2 linked regions of the Homo sapiens genome follow. The protein of the gene in region 1 purifies or fractionates together with the protein of each later gene. This does not show direct contact. Each region holds a gene or a part of one and is shown on either strand. Other genes may lie near its edges.

Region 1 (9,098 bases):
AGCGGAGATCGCGCCATCACACTGCAGCCTGGGCAACAGAGCGAGACTCCGTCTCAAAAACAACAACAAAAACAAAGAGCAGAGTTTTAGGTCAATGCTTCCAGCAGGGAACAGAATTTAGATCTTAACAATTTTGTTTACATTGTATTTATTTTCATGTTTTACCTTCTATTGATGGCAAATGAGACTGGTTTTCCATTTACAGAAGTGATACAAAAGATTCCTGTTGCAATAATTTCATTAAGTGAATAATGAGCCAATTTAAAGAAAAATATAAAGCAAATAATTGTACAGATGGTAAACTAATATGGCAAAATCACTAATATTCAAGGCTGAAGTTTGGCCGGGCATGGTGGCTCATGGCTGTAATCCCAACACTCTGAGAGATGGGGATGAGTGGCTCTCTCGAGCCCAGGAATTAAAGACCAGCCTGGGCAACATAGCAAGACCCTGTCTCTAAAAAAAAAAAATAGCCAGGTGTGGTGGTACATGCCTGTAGTTCCACCTACTAGGGAGACTGAGGTGGGAGGATCACTTAAGCCCAGGAGTTCAAGGCCGCAGTGAGCTGAGATTGTGCCACTGTAGTCCAGCCTGGGCAACAGAGTGAGACCCTGTTTCAAAAACAAAAAAAAGTGGCCGGGTGCAGTGCTCATACCTGTAATCCCAGCATTTTGGGAGGCTAAGGCTGCTGGATCACTTGAGCCCAGGAGTTGGAAACCTGCCCAGGCAGTATGGTGAGACCGTGTCTCTACAAAAAAAATACAAAAATTAGCTGGGCGTGGTGGTATGCACCTGCAGTCCCAGCTATTCTAGAGGTTGAGGTGGGAGGATCGCTTGAGCCTAGGAGTTCGAGGCTGTAGTGAGTTGAGATTGTGCCACTGCACTCCAGTCTGGGTGACAGAGTTGAGATTCTGTCTCAAAAAAAAAAAAAAAAAAAAAAAAAAGACAAAGTTTGGAAAATTAAACCCCCAGGGAAATGGAAACTACATCTGCTGCTCACCCACCTGCCTGCCTCTCCTAAAGGGAAGATTGGGTACTTGGGGTCCCATTTCTGTAGGGTGGAGCATTATAAGTAAGCCTAGCTTGTGGCAAATCTGTCTCTCTGGACACTCCAGCAAGCTGGAAGGGACGATGATCAGAGGTCACAGTTTGGGAGTTGCCCTGCTCTAGGACAACGCTCCTCTCCACATTGGATGAAACTCAGTTTCCCCTGGCCATGGCCTTCCTCACCATGGAGTGGTGAGGGTCCGAGGCTGAGACGTGTGCAGATGGAGGAGAATGGGCAGAGGAGCCTGTGGGTTTTCTCTGACTCTAGGTCCCCACTCCAGCAAGACAGCGCCGCTGCAGCTTGGCCCAGCAAGTTCCTCCTTGCAGTTTGGGGGTCAAAGCCACAGTTCATATGAAACAAAATGTTCCTCTGCCTGGTCTGGTCCTCTCTTTGTGTATTTTCCTAGAGGACCTCACAGTGGGTGAGTGGCCAAGGAGAACAGGATTTGTGGCTCTGGGAAACTGGATTCCTGTCATCTCCTGCCAGCTGTCATCGCCACACCGAGGCTGTTCAGCACCGCAGGACCCGTTCTCTTTGGTATTGGTGGCTTCGGTAAACACTGAAAGAAGGTGGAGGTGGCTGGTCGATGCCATTTCCTGACTATCTAGTACCTTGGGTTCTTCATCTGGATGCGATCTTGAAGGCTTCTGGCCTGGCATTGGCTCCACCCCCAGGTCTCTGAGCCACAGCCCAGGTAGCTGAGCAGAGGCACTGCTGGGCTTCCCCTAGTCCACATAGCCTGGCCACCACCCAGACCCGGGGAGGGGGACTCCAGGTGGAAGGAGCCTGGGAAGGGCATCTTCGCTGGGGCAGTCTCAATCCTAATGCTGGATCCTGGGGTCCCCGGTCCCACTGAGGCAAGGCCTGCCTCGGGGATCTCTGGGGAACCCTGGGGATTCAGAACCCCACACTGGTCCGGCCTTCACGCTTCCAGAAAGCTGAGATCTGCTCCAAGGTGACCCGTGGCTGGAGGCCCCACTCAGGATCCGGGCTCCCTGGCCGCTGCCTCCTGGCCTGGGGGCTCCCAAACTGGACGCTGGCCTCTGGCCTCTGCTCGGGTTCAGCCCAGCTCACCAGGCCTGTGGCGGGGGGCCTCCCCTCCCAGGGCTGGGGCCCCCAGAAGGTGCTCCGGGCTGGGACCTCCAGTACGGTCTGGGGGCCCAAGTTGCTGGGAGCAGAATTTGGGGCTGAGGGGGCAGGTGGGGCTGTTGCTCGGGCCTCCAAAGTGCCCACCTGGGTGGGAGGCTCAGGGGCCCGATCTGTCAGCAGGGGGACCGCAGAGCCATACCAGTCCTCAGAGCGCTCTCGGGCGGTGCCCATGGGCTCAATCCACAGCTCTCCTCCTGGGCGCCACACCAGGGTGGGTGCACGGTGGCTGGGGTCTGGGCGGAGAGCACGGCGGAACAGGCGTTCAGCCAACACAGCGGTGGTGAGGATGAAGAGCGCAGCCAGGGTGGCCAGGACCAGCATGATGGGGATGCAGGGCCCACAGGGCAGTGAGGGCCATGGGGCTGCTTCCCATGCGGGGGGCCCCTCCACGCGCCCAGAGGGCGGCTCTGGAGTCAACGGCATCTGAGAGACACAGGGGTGAGAAGAGGAAGTAAATGAGGCAGAGGGGGCACAACCAAGATGAGAGAGAGGCAGCAGGTGTCCAGGAAAGCCTGGGAGAAGGGCTGGGCATGGGGGCTCATGCCTGGAATCCCAGCACTTTGAGAGGTCGAGGCGGGAGGATCACTTGAGCCCAGGAGTTCAAGACCAGCCTGGACACACAGTGAAACCTCATCTCTAAAAATAATTTAAAAACTAGCTGGGTGTGGTGGCTCACACCTGTAGTCCCAGCTACACAGGAAGCTGAGGTGGGAGGATTACTTGAGCCCAGGAGTTTGAAGCTGCAGTGACCCCAGATTGCACCACTGTCCTCCAGCCTGGGCAATAGAGCAAGACCCTTTCTCAAAAATGAAAAAGAACATTCTGGAGAGACAGAGAAGCAAGAGGGACCAGAAAGGGTAAGCGTGAGCCAGGTGGGGTGGGAGGACAGGCAGCCTACCTCGGGGCACAGCCAGGCCCTCCTGCCTGGCTCTCCAGGCCTTTCCAGAATCCCCATTTCCCTCCCAGACCCCAGGGTGCCTCAGACAAGAAAGGTCTCAAGGGCTTCTTTCCTCCCCACTCGGCCCCCTCAAGTCTTGCTCAGACCTAGAGAGGAAGTGGTGGGTGAAGAAATGAGAACCTCCCCTCCCACTGGCTCCCCTGCGTGTGTCTCCCCCACCGCCTGCCGCCAGCACCTCCGCTGGCCCCTTGAGGCTCCTTCGCCCCTCACCATTCTCCTCGGACTTGATCTTGCTCTCATAGGCTCCACGGAATCTGCTGCCGGGCCGGGCCGGGCCAGGCCTCCGGAGGCGCCTCTGCACCCCTCCTGGGCTCCCCAGCTTTGCCCAGGCTCTGGCCTGTCTCTATCTCTCGTTTGTCTCTGCACACCTCTCTGTCCCCCACATCCTCCATCTGCAGGGGGCCTCCTGCACCCCTCAACTCACCTTGGGTCAGTCCCTGGGCTCCTCTCCCTCCTAGAGCCACTCTTCCTGGTGCTGGACTAAGAGGTGCAGGCTTGGAGGGTGCAGGGCGGTCCGCCTCTCAGACGTAGAGGCCCGGCCTCGGATGAAGGCGGAAGGGAGGGCACCGCCTGTTGCTGGGCAACTGTGCCCCAACTCGTCTGCCCCTGGGGAGTGTTTGTTTCCAAAGCAACCCAAGGGGATGTGGTCACTGCGGTGAGGAGGCTTTTCCTGGGGTAAGGTGGGGCTGGAATGGGCAATGGTTCTGTTGAACTTAGTGTCACCCCATAGCCAGGCCCTGAGCCCCAGAACATTCACCGAAAAGCTGAGAAAGAGGACGCCGGGGCCAGGCACAGTGGCTCACCCCTGTAATCCCAGCATTTTGGGAGGTCAAGGTGGGCAAGTCACCTGAGGTCAGGAGTTCGAGACCAGCCTGCCAACATGGCGAAACCCCATCTCTACTGAAAAATACAAAAATTAGCTGGGCATGGTGACGGGCACTTGTAATCTCAGCTGCTCAGGCGGCTGAGGCAGGGAGAATCGCTTGAACCCGGGACTCGGAGGTTGCAGTGAGCTGAGATCGTGCCACCACACTCCAGCCTGGGCAACAGAGTGAGACTCCGTCTTAAAAAAAAAGAAAAGAAAAGAAAAGAAAAAGAAATAGGACACTGGGACTTTAGCCCGTACATTCCCAGAGAACCATGGTGCCTCCCCCGTTCCTCCTGGGAGGATGCCCCACCCCATCCTGCCTTGTCTTATCCACGGTGCCTCCCCAGATCTGCTCCTGCCATGCAGCCCCCACAGGCACCCCCTGCTTGGCCAGCTTGCTTCACACCTTTTTTTTTTTTTTCTGGTAGAGATGGGCTCTTGCTATGTTGCCCAGGCTGGTCTCAAGCTCCTGGCCTCAAGAGATCCTCCTGCCTCAGCCTCCCAAAGTGCTGGGATTACAGGTGTGAGCTACCACACTGGCCCCTGCCTCATACTTTTAATTAACATAAGTCTCTCTCTCTTCAGACCATTTAGCCCCCATTTTGGTTGGAAAATATCAGTGAGGTGAGGCTTGGGTAACAAAAATGTCAAGCCTCTGAGAGGAGTCCAGGGTATAAAAACAGGCGTGGGCCTGTTTCCAAAACCCTGACCATCCTCATGTCTGTCCCTCTTTCCTGCTGCTGAGGGTGGGAGGAGCCTGGAGCAGAGTGTGACAAGATGTCATCAGGCTCTGGAGTCCAGGTGACTTTCTGAGATTCTCTAGTTTGACTCATCCACAGATGACAAAAGTAAGGCTTAAAGAAAAGAGATTTCATGACCAAAGTCGCATGACCAATGTATGTGTGGGTGAGCATGTAGTGGCCAGGGTGGTGGAAGAATAGATAGAAATCCCTGGGCTGGGCGAGGTGGCTCATGCCTGTAATCCCAGCACTTTGGGAGACCGAGGCGGGTGGATCACCTGAGGTCAGGAGTTTGGGAGCAGCCTGGCCAACATGGCAAAACCCCGTCTCTACTAAAAATACAAAAATTAGCCGGGCGTGGTGCCGCACGCCTATGACCCCAACTACTCAGGAGGCTGAGGCAGGAGAATCGCTTGAACCCGGTGCAGTGAGCCGAGATCGTGCCATTCCACTCCAGCCTGGGCAACAGAGCGAGACTCTGTCTCAAAATAAATAAATTAAATAAATAAATGAATGAAAAGACAGTCTCCGTCAGACTGCCCCATCCTGGTGGTTTTGAGCCCTGCTGGGAGGAGCTGGAGATGGAGAGTCCGGGGGAAACCGCCTTTGCAAAGAAAGAGATCTAACTTAACTGACTCCACCTTGCTTCTAACCTCCAAGCTGTCTTTGTTTATTCCTGGGCGTAGGCTGAACTAACTTTGGGAGAAACTTAGTTTGTAGTTTATAGTTTAAACAAAGACAGTAACAGCCCTTTCCCAAAGCAGACCTTCTTGCCTGGGGACTAGACTAACACTAGCCATAGGATTAGAAATTATGGTTTAGGAGTCATGCAGCTGGAGGCTACAAGATTCTGACCCTCCCTAAACTGCTCCTAACATCAGTGCTTGAGATATTTTGCAGACCCTGCACTTGATGGATCAGCTGGCACCACCCAGATCAATAAACTGGCTCATCTGATCTTGTGGCCCCCACCCAGAACTGACTCTGCAAGAAGACAGCTCTGACTCCTGATGATTTCATCTCTGACCAATCTGCACTCCCAGATCCCAGCACTTTGGGAGGACCAGACAGGCAGATCACAAGGTCAGGATGAGAGGTGACAGCGTGCTGGCAGCCCTCACTCACTCTGGGCGCCTCCTCGGCCTCCACGCCAACTCTCCCTGCGCTTGAGGAGCCCTTCAGCCCGCCGCTGCACTGTGGGAGCCCCTCTCTGGGCTGGCCGAGGCGGGAGCCCGCTCCCTCTGCTTGCCAGAGGTGTGGAGGGAGAGGCGCGGACGGGAACTGGGGCTGCGGGCCACGCTCGAGGGCCAGCATGAGTTCCGGGTGGGCGTGGGCTCGGTGGGCCCCGCACTCAGAGAGGCCGGCTGGCGCCATTGGCCCCAGGCAGTGAGGGGCTTAGCACCCAGACCAGCAGCTGCAGAGGGTGCGCCAGGTCCCCCAGCAGTGCCAGCCCACAGGTGCACTTGAATTCTCGCAGGCCTCAGCTGCCTCCCCACGGGGCAGGGCTTGGGACCTGCAGCCCGCCATGCCCAAGCGTCCCCCTGCCTGGGCTCCTGCACCGCCCCCTGCTCTGCGGGGCCTGGTCCCATCAACCGCCCAAGGGCTGAGGAGTGCAGGCACAGGATTGGTGGGCAGCTCCACCTGCAGCCCAGGTGCTAGGTCCACTAGGTGAAGCCAGCTGGGCTCTTGAGTCTAGTGGGCACTTGGAGAACCTTTATGTCTAGCTAAGGGATTGTAAATACACCAATCAGCACTCTGTGTCTAGCTCAAGGTTTGTAAACACACCAATCAGCACCCTGTCAAAATGGACCAATCAGCTCTCTATAAAACAGACCAGTTGGCTCTCTGTAAAATGGGCCAATCAGCAGGATGTGGGTGGGGCCAGATAAGGCAATAAAAGCAGGCTGCCAGAGCCAGCAGTGGCAACTCGGCGTACCCTTCCACATAGGAAGCTTTGTTCTTTTGATCTTTCCAATAAATCTTGCTGCTGCTTATCCTGGGTCTGCACTGCCTTTATGAGCTGTAACATCGTGAAGGTCTGCAGCTTCACGCCAGAGGCCAGCGAGACCACGAACCCACCAGAAGGAAGAAACTCGGAACACGTCCGAACATCAGAAGGAACAAACTCCGGACATGCCGCCTTTAAGAACTGAAACACTCACCGTGAGGGTCCGCAGCTTCATTCTTGAAGTCAGTGAGACCAAGAACCCGCCAATTCTGGACACAAGGAGATCGAGACCATCCTGGCTAACACGGTGAAACCCCATCTCTACTAAAAATACAAAAAATTTATTAGGCGTGTTGGCGGATGCCTGTAGTCCCAGCTAGTCCCAGCTACTCCCAGCTACTTGGGAGGCTGAGGCGGGAGAATGGCATGAACCTGGGAGGCGGAGCTTGCAGTGAGCCGAGATTGCGCCACTGCCCTCAAGCCTGGGCGACAGAGCAAGACTCCATCTCAAAAAAACAAAACAAAAACAAACAAAAAAACCCTCTGTTTCCCGAATGCTCAGGGAGACTGATTTGAGTAATAATAAAACTCCTGGCTGGACACAGTGGCTCACGCCTGTAATTTCAGCAATTTGGGAGGCCAAGGCCGGTGGATCACCTTAGGTTGGGAGTTTGAGACCAGCGTGACCAACATGGAGAAAACACTGTCTCTACTAAAAATACAAAATTAGCCAGGTGTGGTGGCAAGTGCCTGTAATCCCAGCTACTCAGGAGGCTGAGGCAGGAGAATCACTTAAACCCTGGAGGCGGAGGTTGCAGTGAGCCGAGGTGGCACCATTGTACTCCAGCCTGGGCAAAAAGAGCAAAACCGTCAAAAAAAAAAAAAAAAAAAAAAAAAAAACTCCGGTCTCCTGCACAGCTGGCTCTGTGTGAATTACTCTTTATTGCAATTTTGCTGTCTTGATGAATCGGCTATGTGTAGGCAGCGGGCAAGGTGAACCCCTTTGGCAGTTACAGGGGGAAGCTAAGGCTCAGGACACTCGCAGAAACCTGAGGAGGCTAGAATTTTACCAGATTACAAGCCTTAAAATCAAACCTGAAGTTAGTGCCAGCGAACAACACGCTTAAAAATAACTAAGATGTTCTTTCTGGCTGTTCTAGAGGTCAATATAGAAAAATGATAGTAACTTTGATGTTATTTTATGTTATGTATTTCTTTTTTTCTTTTGAGACGGAGTCTGTCTCTGTTGCCCAGGCTGGAGTGCGGTGACGCAATCTTGGCTCACTGCAACCTCCGCCTCCCGGGTTCAAGATATTCTTCTGCTTCAGCCATCCAAGTAGCTGGGATTACAGGTGTGTACCACCGTGCCTGGCAGTTATGTGTGTTTCCCTACAATCAAACAATGATTTATTGTAAAAAAAAAAAAAATCAAAATAAACAAAACCTGAAAACTTGTATGTGCTCTTTTAATCAATCTTTTTAAACAAACTTTTAGAAGAGTTAACATTATTAAAAACTGGAAAGATCAGACATGGTTTTTTCTTACTAAGATATCACTGGCTGTTTTGATTCTTTCATCACGTACAAGTTTAGGCCCTACACAATGGTTCATGCCTGTAATCCCAGCACTTTGGGAGGCCAAGACAGGTGGATCACCTAAGGTCGGGAGTTTGAGGCCAGCCTGACCAACATGGCGAAACCCCGTCTCTACTAAACATACCAAAAAAGGCCGGGTGAGGTGACTCACACCTGTAATTCCAGCACTTTGGGAGGCCAAAGCAGGCGGATCATGAGGTCAGGAGTTCGACACCAACTTGGCCAACATGGTGAAACCCTGTCTCTACTAGAAATACAAAAATTAGCCGGGTTTGGTGGCAGGTGCCTGTAGTCCCAGCTACTTGAGAGGCTGAGGCAGGAGAATCGCTTGAACCCAGGAGGTGGAGGTTGTAGTGGGCCGGGATCATGCCACTGCACTCCAGCCTGGGTGACAGGGCAAGACTCTGTCTGGGGAAAAAAAAAAAAATTAGCTGGGCGTGGTGACACATGCCTGTAATCCCAGCTACTCAGGAGGCTGAGGCAGGAGAATTGCTTGAACCCAGGAGGAAGAGGTTGCAGTAAGCTGTGATCATGCCACTGCACTCCACCCTGGACAACAGAGCGAGACTCTGTCTCAAAAAAAAAAAAAAAAAGTTTAAGGCCAGGCAAGGTGGCTCATGTTTGTAATCCCACAATTTTGGGAGACTGAAGCAGGAGGATTGCTTGAGGGCAAGAGTTTGAGACCAGCCTGGGTAACATAGCAAGACTCCCATTTCTACAAAAAATCAAAAAATTAGCCAGGCATGATGGCATGTGCTTGTAGTCTTAGTTACTTGGGAGGCTGAGAGGGG
Region 2 (8,480 bases), on another chromosome or scaffold:
GATCAGATCCAGCAGGGTCTTAACTACATGCAATAGCATTGCACCACTTAGAAGCTCCCACTACTACAGGAGAGGAAAGAGTTAAGCCCAGGGAGAGAGCCAGAGGATGGGATGGGCGGGACTCACAGGTAATGTAGTAATCATGGTGCTTCTTGAACTCCAGGCCCATGTAGTTGGGGCTGAACTCCTGGAACTTGATGGTAAAGCGTATTTCCTGCTCTGGCCTATTGCAGGTGACCAACACGTTGGGGTCGAGAACTGTGCTACAGGCAGCTGCCTGCTCAGGCCGCACCAGGTACAGCTTGTAGTACTCATAGGGCCGCCCTGCTTCTGCTCGGGGGCAGATGATGTCCAGCTTGTCTCCAATTTTCGGATAGATCACCAAGCCCTTCCCACTCAGGAACCTGCCCAGAAGGAAGAAGATGGTCAGCCTCAGGGTTGGGGGTGGCCCCAGGCCATTCCAGAACCAGGGAAGCGGACAAGAGCCGGGCTGGGCCTACTGGGTGGAGATGGCAAGAGCAAGCCTTCTGCCCTTCCTCCATCCTCAGGCTGGGGGTGGGGAGAGAGAACCACACTACCAGGAGAGTGTGGAAGGGGTGGCCCATGGGCAAGGCTGCCAGGCTCTGACTGCTCGGCAGGGTGGAGCACTGCCTGGCTGGGGGAGCCCTTTGTCCTAATGTGGCATTTCCGCAGGGGGCTGACGTGGCCAATGGGCTGGGTACCAAGGTGTCAGGCCCATGCTACCTGGAGGTGGCAGTCTTATATACCCCCACCCCCAACAAAGATTCCTTCATGACCGCTGCTACTACCTCTCCTATACCCATACACACGTGCGCGCGCGCGCGCGCACACACACACACACACACACACACACACACACACACACACATACACACACACACAGCAAGCCCACACATGTCTTAGTCACCACTCCCCGCAGCTCCCAGCCAAAGGCTGGGGGAGCTCAATCTGTCTGGGACCCATGTCTTCTCCCCCATCCTTACTAATCTTGGTCATGATGGAAAGATAGGAACAGGCATCGCCTGGAGCAAAGGGATGATGGCCACAGTCTCTGGCCAGGTGCAGCTCTGCTCACTCCCACTGCCTATTGTCCTACTGGCAATTCATCCCACCCTCAAAATGCAAGAGCCTGAATTCCTAAACTTGATTCATCTCATTCTTAAAAAGAACAGAGGAGAAGAGAAGGGGCTCAACCAGAGACAACAGATCATAGAAGATAGGGCCTCATCTGTATCCTAACCTGTCACCTCTATGTTGCTCCTACTCCAGCTCCTGAGAGGAGATGGACAAATGCCTTTTGAGCCAGGTTCATATTCTAATCCAGAAGGCCAGGCACTGGGGGACAGCAGGGAGGGTCAGCAGCCCAGGACCACCTATCCATAGGACTCTGTCCTTGCCTAAGCACACAGAAAGAAAATGGTGCTCCATTGGCCATTTCTGAGACTGGATGGGCTGGTGCTGAGAGCAAGGCAGAACCATGTAGGAGAAAGAACACAGACTTTAGAATCAGATTCCAAAGCTAGGCCCTTACTAACTCTGTGACCTTGGATGAGCTGCCTGTTCTGAGCTTCAGTTTCTTCTCTTGTAAAGTGGGGGTGGCAAGAGCCCCTACCTTCCAATATTGTGGTGGGGAGACAAGGCAGCACATGGAGAACACCTAGCACACAATAGGCGTTCAACATGTTTGACTGCCTCTTAGAAGCAGTCTCCCAAGAGGCAGGAGGTCAGATACTAACACTAAGTACCTATGAGCTCACTCTCATATTTTGGAGGGGAAACAGGAAGAGAAGATATGGCTCCATCGTCAAGGACTTTACTGTCCAGTTTGGGTCAGAAAAGTAAATAACCCATACTCGAGTGATAGACAACACCAGGCTATCTGTAGGTATGTGTGAGGATGATGATTCAAGCAGCAAGGGCTGGAGGCAGGGAGAAGAAAGAGATAGCTCATCTGACCAGGATGGTCAGAGATGTATCCACAGGAAAGGCAGGATGAAAGTGGGTCTTAGGTGAGGAATAAGAAGTCAACACACTGAGACAGTAGACAGCAGTGGCTACAACACAAAGCCCAGGCCAGTGATTGGTCCAGCTTGGCTGGGAGTGAGAAGAGAGAAACAGAAGAAGAGGTGAAAAGTTCACCTGGGGCCAGACTGAAAGGCTTCAAGGGTCACAGCAAGCAGGGTGGGTTTCATCCCATTGGAGACAGGCTCTCAGAGCAGGAAGGACAATGGAAGGCTTCAGGCAGTGCTTAAAGAGAATGAAGCTGACAGTGTCATGCACCAGTTCACAGGCTACCACAATCATCTGAGAAAAGAGTGGTTCCATTTCCTGAGGGCCCATTACACCAAAGGTACTACAAGCAATACCGGCCTACTGGGAACTCTGGGCAAATGCCTTTGCAATGCCAAACCTGTGTCCTCATCTGAGGGAGGGAAATGATACCCAAGTAGGCGAAGAGGGAAACTGACCACATGGATGAAGTGGACGAAGAAAAGCAGCCTTTCCTCCATGTCGAGTGAGGCTCCACCAAATTGGGAGCTGCCATCTTGATGTGCAGGAGGGTAAAAGCCAGAATGAGATGGCCTCCCCACTGGTACCTAACTATAGAGGGCCCAGAAAGGAAGTAGGCATGGGATGGAAGCCTGGATAAACATTTCAGATGGAATACCCCTGTCCCATGCACCATACAAAGCCAACAAGTTTCCCCAAAGCCTCTAGAATTCTCCAGGCATTTTTTCCCTTTCCAGTGCTCACAACGGTTCCATCCAGATGGCAGGATTAGACAACTGCTCACATCTTAGAGCCAGCAGGAACCTTAGAGTCCAGGCCCTTCATGTGAGGGAATGAATGATCAGATGAATGTTCCCATTGAAAAGAGGGGTCTAAACCTACCCAGGACAATAACCCGATGGGTCTAAGAGGCCCTAAAACATTACCTGAATCCTTGTACTGTTGCATCTTAACAACACATATATATGCAGCTACATAGAGGGCACGGAAAGGGAGACAGGCCAGCTCAGCTTTCTAACCACTCGGTTCTGGCTTACTCACCAGGGAGTCCTGTCTACCCCAAGTGCAGTCTCCCATTGCCACCCAGGTTCCAGAGCCCTGGAATTGGAACAGGGCTTCTAGCTAATTGGGGTTCTACCTTGAAGCCAGAGGCATTGAGGAAACAGATGTCTACATGATGGAGGAGGGGGGAGAAGAGAGAACTATTGCCCCCAAAACCCCTCAGAGTCTCTTCAACCTCAGTGAACAGACTTCATAAATATTCATTAGTTCATTTGCATGGCAGCTGGCAGAGGGAAACTCACCTTCCCCTGAAGTGCAGAAGGGAGCGGAGCCTGATGAGACCCGCCTTCCCTGACCCTGATCCCCCATACTGGTAACCTTAGCATCTTCCCGACCACTGGGCAAACCTCGTCTTGACCTGTCAGAAGCTCAAGAGAGTGGTAACGGGCCATAAGGGATGGGTGTATAGCCAGTGAGAGTGAAGGCCAAAGCTAGGTAGAACACTAGTCATACTTTAAAGGGGGACCCTACAGTTCTCCCCTCTTACCAGATTAGGAGTAGGAGTAAGGGAAGAGGAGGAAGAGATATCCCGAAGTGAAACTCTTTATCCTCCACCTTACTTCCCCCCACCCTAGGACCAAGCCAAGCTTTTCTGTCTGGGGCCACCCCCAGACAAAGCCCTTTTCTGAAAAATAAAGGGATTGACATGGCTCAGCAGGAAGCCTGAAGCAGGTCACCATGGTAACCCCTGAGGCCTTCCCTCTCCAGCCTCAGATAGCCCTGGGACCCCAGGGCGCCACCCCAGGGAGTAAAAGGACTTGGGGGAGGCGGCCTAAGCTATTCCAGCTCTTCCCCCTCTACCCTAACCCAAGTTCTACCTTCAGCCTTTCTACCTAGCTTAGAAGCACCACGATGCCATCACTGCCACAAAGAATCCTGGGATATGAAAAGCCTGAAGGGGTTGGGGACAGTAGCCTCCAAGGCCCTGGACTGGCCAGAAACCAACTAACCAACAGCCCCCTCCTTGTTTTCTCCGGATAAGCCCTTCTCCACCCATGTGAATACAATTTACAGGGGGCAGGGAGAGCTTGCAGCTAGGAGGGTCTTGCCCAGAAAGCTGCCCACATCCCACCAGGTCTATACTTCTTTCCCTGTCACCCTGCTCTCAGGCTCTAGCAACTTGTGGTCAGAGAATGACCAAAGGGGGAGCCTGGTTCTAGGCCATGCAAGCCCAAGTCTGGTAGAAGCCTCTAGCCTCAACCTCGATTCAGTGACCCCACGACCACTGCACCTGCACCTCCCAGGGTGGCAAGACCAATGGAGGACAGACCCCAAGCCAGAGCTCAAGTCTGTTCTCATCCCAGCTAGGGTGGGGAGCCCCCAAATTAAAGGCTCCTCTTTAACTCCCCCAGCTCCACCCAGCCCCCGAGGCTGGCAGGAGCAGGCCTGGCATGTCCCAGCAGTGCCCGCCCAGGCGTGGGTGGGCAGGAACAGCAGCTGGGTCCTGGCACACACAGCTCTGTCAGAGGCAGGGAAGCCAGGAGAGTCCTGGAGGAAGTCACCCTCCCCATCTACACTGAACTATGCCCTTCCCTCTGCCCCACCTGGCTAAGGCTCGTGTCCATTATGAATTTAATACCCCCCCTCCTCGATGTCGATGTCTGCTTTCTGTGGGGTCCCTGAGAAGAGAGATTCTTAGCTCAGAGAGGAACCAAAGGTGCCACTCAGAGCTCCGCAGGGAGTGTGCCAGGCAGTGAGTTGGCTGCCTTTAGTTCAGGTCACCCAAGCAGTCAGCCCTGGAAGGTAGGCCTAGAAAAGTCAAATGAGGAAGTTGGAGCACTGCTCACCCCACACAGACAGGGCCTGAGTCACAGGGACAGATGCTTGCACACCTGCGAGGTAAGAGGGGAACTCAGGGGCAGGGAGCCAGGGCCTCTTCCCAAACCCCACCTTGAATTCCTGTCTCTCCTACATTTCAAGGCAGCAGGAATGAATGGCACACAACACAGCTCTGCCCCCATAGGCAAGTCATTGACTGGCCTTAGACAAGTCACTTCCCTTGTCCGGGCATATGCCTTCTTATCTGGAAAATGGGACCAATACCTACTTCCCAGGGTTGTTGGGAGCATTCGATGAGATCATATATGAGAATGCATTGTAAGTAGCAAGGTGCCGCCTGCCTATTAGTTAGCATGCCAAACACAGCATTATTTAGAAGTAAAAAGCTGAAGGAGCTTACATTCCTGGCTGCTAGCACCCTGACCCAAAACAATGATCGTGAAACACGCCCAAGAGGGGCTGCTATGGTCTGCGGGGTAAGGAACCCAGAATGTGGCTGGTGAGCACCCCCGTATCTCAGCTCCTCTAATAGTCACAGAGTGGACTCTCCCCCAAACCTGGTGTTCCCATGGCAACTAGCAGCCTCCTGGCTGGCCCACTCTATCTCCTTTAGTCCCTAACCCCAGAAAACAGTGATGCACCATAGTATCCAGGGCCCACGCATCCCCATTCACCTGAGCGGATGAGACAACAGAGAGCCCAAGGGAAGAAAGGGAACCCTTGATTCAGTCCCCACCCCAGCCTCACAGGTCCTTCTTGCCCTTGCCTGGCTGCCCTATGTGGGAGAGGGGAGGCAGGGGAACAGGGGACTTTAGGAGCTGCTGGATTCCCATCACTCTCAGGCTCCCACCTGTGGCCAATCAGCCACAAAGTAGAAGAGGTCAGGTCCCTAACCACCCCGGAAAAGGGCCCCCTGAGCTGGCCTCCCCAGGACTGTGAGCTAGAACAGCTGTGTGGGGCTGGGGCCAACACTTTGGCTTGGAGCAGGCAAGCATGGGTTGGGGTCTGCAGCTGCCCCCACCCATGCTGGAGTCAAGGGTCCTGGATGCCAAGCTGAACCCCCCCACCCCCACCCCCTTGTAGGGAATGTTTGTAATGTGATCTCAGGCACATTCTGACTCCCTGGAGGTGGGGGAACCTGAGTGGGGGGCAGGAAGGGGTCAGGACGGGACTGAGAGACTGAACTGCAGCAGCTGGACTTGGCTGAGGACTCAAGTGTGAGGCCTGCCGGCTGCCCCAAGTTCCCAGGGGAAGAGGCTGCGGGAGGGGTCGCCTAGGACCATTTAGATAACAGCCCCCCAACTCAGACACACACACACACACACACACACACACACGCACACACAGAGGTTCCTAAAAAAAACTCTAGCAGGACCAAACCCATCCCCCCACCTTGCGCTCATGGGGCAAATCTGACAGGAGGGGCCAAGGAGGCAGAAGCTCCTGCCACTCAGGGACTAGCATCCCAGAAGGCCCCAGCACCAATTTGGGAAAGAGGCTTGGGAGTCTTGGGCCAGCCATTCCCGCTTCCCCTCTCAGTCAGGGCTGGGGCCGGGCCGCACGCACCTTGGAACCTGGAAGCGGACCCCCAGCCCCACCACTTCTTTTATTTTGATTTTTTTTTTCCCAAGAAGGAAGCAATTAAGCAGGGTTTATAGGCACTGGGAGATTTTCTTTTTTGGGAGGGGGGTTGCCAGCTTCTGACAGGGCTGAGGAGAGAGACCAAAAGCCAGGAGAGGAAGAGGGGAAGGAAGAGAGAAAATGAGCCTGAGAGGGAGAGCACGGGCATGTGCGAGAAACAAAAGGACTTGAGAAAAAGAGGCAGAGAGTGACTAAGAGTGAGAGGGAGTGTGAGAGCAAGGCAGAGCAGGCGAGCCTAGCTGGAGAGGGGAAGTGAGCGCTGCTCGCGGAGGGTATGAGAGGGCGAACTGACACGGGCCTGAGAGGAGAACTCGGGCAGGAGGCAGAGAGGGAGGGAGACAGAGAGGGACTGTTTATTTGAAAGGCTGTGGCAGCCTGAGGGTTGGGCGCGGTGGCAGAAGCAGCCCCCAAAGCTCAAGGAGAGCTGAGGGCAGTGCCTCCTTCCTGTCCATTTGCCCCCACCACCCCGAGCCAACACATGTAGACAGTGGCTGCATTCCAGACCCCTGAGCCTGGATGGAAGGAGGGTGCACCAGGATCAGTCTCTGATCCTTCCCAGGATCTACCCAATTACAGAATGGAATTCGGACAGTTTCTAGAGAGTCTTCAGCCACCCCCCATCCTCACCCCACAATGCCTGCCCTCAGCTTGAGGTAGATGAGGAGGGGGGTCAGAGAGGATACCACCCCCCAAAACCTGTAAGCCAGTCCAGAGCACTAAAGTCTCTGAGCACAAAAAGGGGGAAGCACAGACAGATCGTGTTTCTTCCAGCACCCCCAACTCTGCAGGAGGGCTCCTTTCCAGCTGTGGAGCTGCATGCTATCTCTGGTTAGAGACCCGAGAGAGCAATTAGGTCACTCCCATGAGCCCCTATGATGGGCTACCCCAGGCGGATTTCAACTCTCCTGGCTCAAGACAGAACATTTCCAGCCTCCACCCTTACCAGGGTAACTGAGCACTTCACAACCACTGAGCACTTCACAACCACTGAGCACTTCACAACGTTCCCCCCTGGGCTCAAGCAGCCCAGAGCTCCCAGAGCATTTTGAGCCCCTGCTGTTAGGAGAGTGTTGTACCCCGTTTGGCTTCTGGGTAGGAAAGAAATTCTTGCCAATCCCTTTCCTTGTACCCAGGGAGAGCCCTCCACCCCAACCCTGGTTTAGCCATCCCACCAACCAGTAATAGGACTCTACCTTAATCGAGGAGAAGAAAACTAAAGCTGCCTTCTCCTACTCCAGGGCTGAGAGATCAAACGTCCCTGGGACCCAAGAGGCCAAGGTAGGCAGGAGCCTGGGAAGTTACCCGGGGCAGGGCGGGGCTGGGGGGGAGGCGGCGTGGGGCAGCAAGAGTGGACAGGAAGAAATTTGAGATACAGGAATCAGTGATCACGGATGGAGCAGGTCAAAGCTCCCCAGTTTCCTGCTAAGTGGGGTTGTTCGCACATTGCTGGGACCTCCAGAAAATTGAGAGGAAGGGCAATTTTGACCCTTGGTTCCAACCTGAGTCCTGGATGCCAAAAGAGAAGGTCCAGAGGTCACTACAACAGCCCCAGCGACTTCCCACTAAAAGCCCAGAAACCACTGAGCCACCGCCCTGAAAGGTGTGCGTGTTGTTTGGAGGGGTTGTGTGTGTGGTGGTGGTGGGGTAGTTGTGCAGAGGAAGGAGAAGAAAGAAAAGAAAGGATGTCCTTTATATAGCTGCCCACTCCCCGCCCCAACCCCTTGGGGAAAACTAAGCACAGCTTCCCAATCTGGGGGACAGACTCGGGGGCCAAGGGGACCTGCCTGGGCAGGAATCGCTCCTTCTCCACCCACCTCCCTCAACAGCTCGGCCGCCACTCTCCGCCCTGGCGGGCCCTTGAAGCTCTGTTACCGGCTCCATTGGACCCCTGACGGGCACTGGTTCGAACCCCCACTACCCAACGACCACTCTCCCACTCCGCCCCTCTCCACCCGCTGCCTTTGTGA

Evidence for each region.
Region 2: the proteins of C16orf54 (region 1) and EFNB1 purify together in Homo sapiens (affinity purification with mass spectrometry; 2 studies listed by BioGRID and IntAct, with this or other methods). This does not show direct contact.

What each region holds. Positions count from the first base shown.
Region 1 is NC_000016.10:29,742,332-29,751,429, forward strand, and holds C16orf54 (transmembrane protein C16orf54), read right to left. Parts: upstream 3,660-9,098; 5' UTR 3,580-3,659; exon of another isoform or gene 3,396-3,579; coding exon of another isoform or gene 3,366-3,395; intron 3,293-3,365; exon of another isoform or gene 3,153-3,292; coding exon of another isoform or gene 3,096-3,152; intron 3,055-3,095; exon of another isoform or gene 2,916-3,054; intron 2,621-2,915; coding exon 1,946-2,620; 3' UTR 1,608-1,945; coding exon of another isoform or gene 1,559-1,607; 3' UTR 132-1,558; downstream 1-131.
Region 2 is NC_000023.11:68,830,541-68,839,020, reverse strand, and holds part of EFNB1 (ephrin-B1 precursor), read right to left. Parts: intron 405-8,480; coding exon 127-404; intron 1-126. UniProt on the Homo sapiens protein: Cell surface transmembrane ligand for Eph receptors, a family of receptor tyrosine kinases which are crucial for migration, repulsion and adhesion during neuronal, vascular and epithelial development.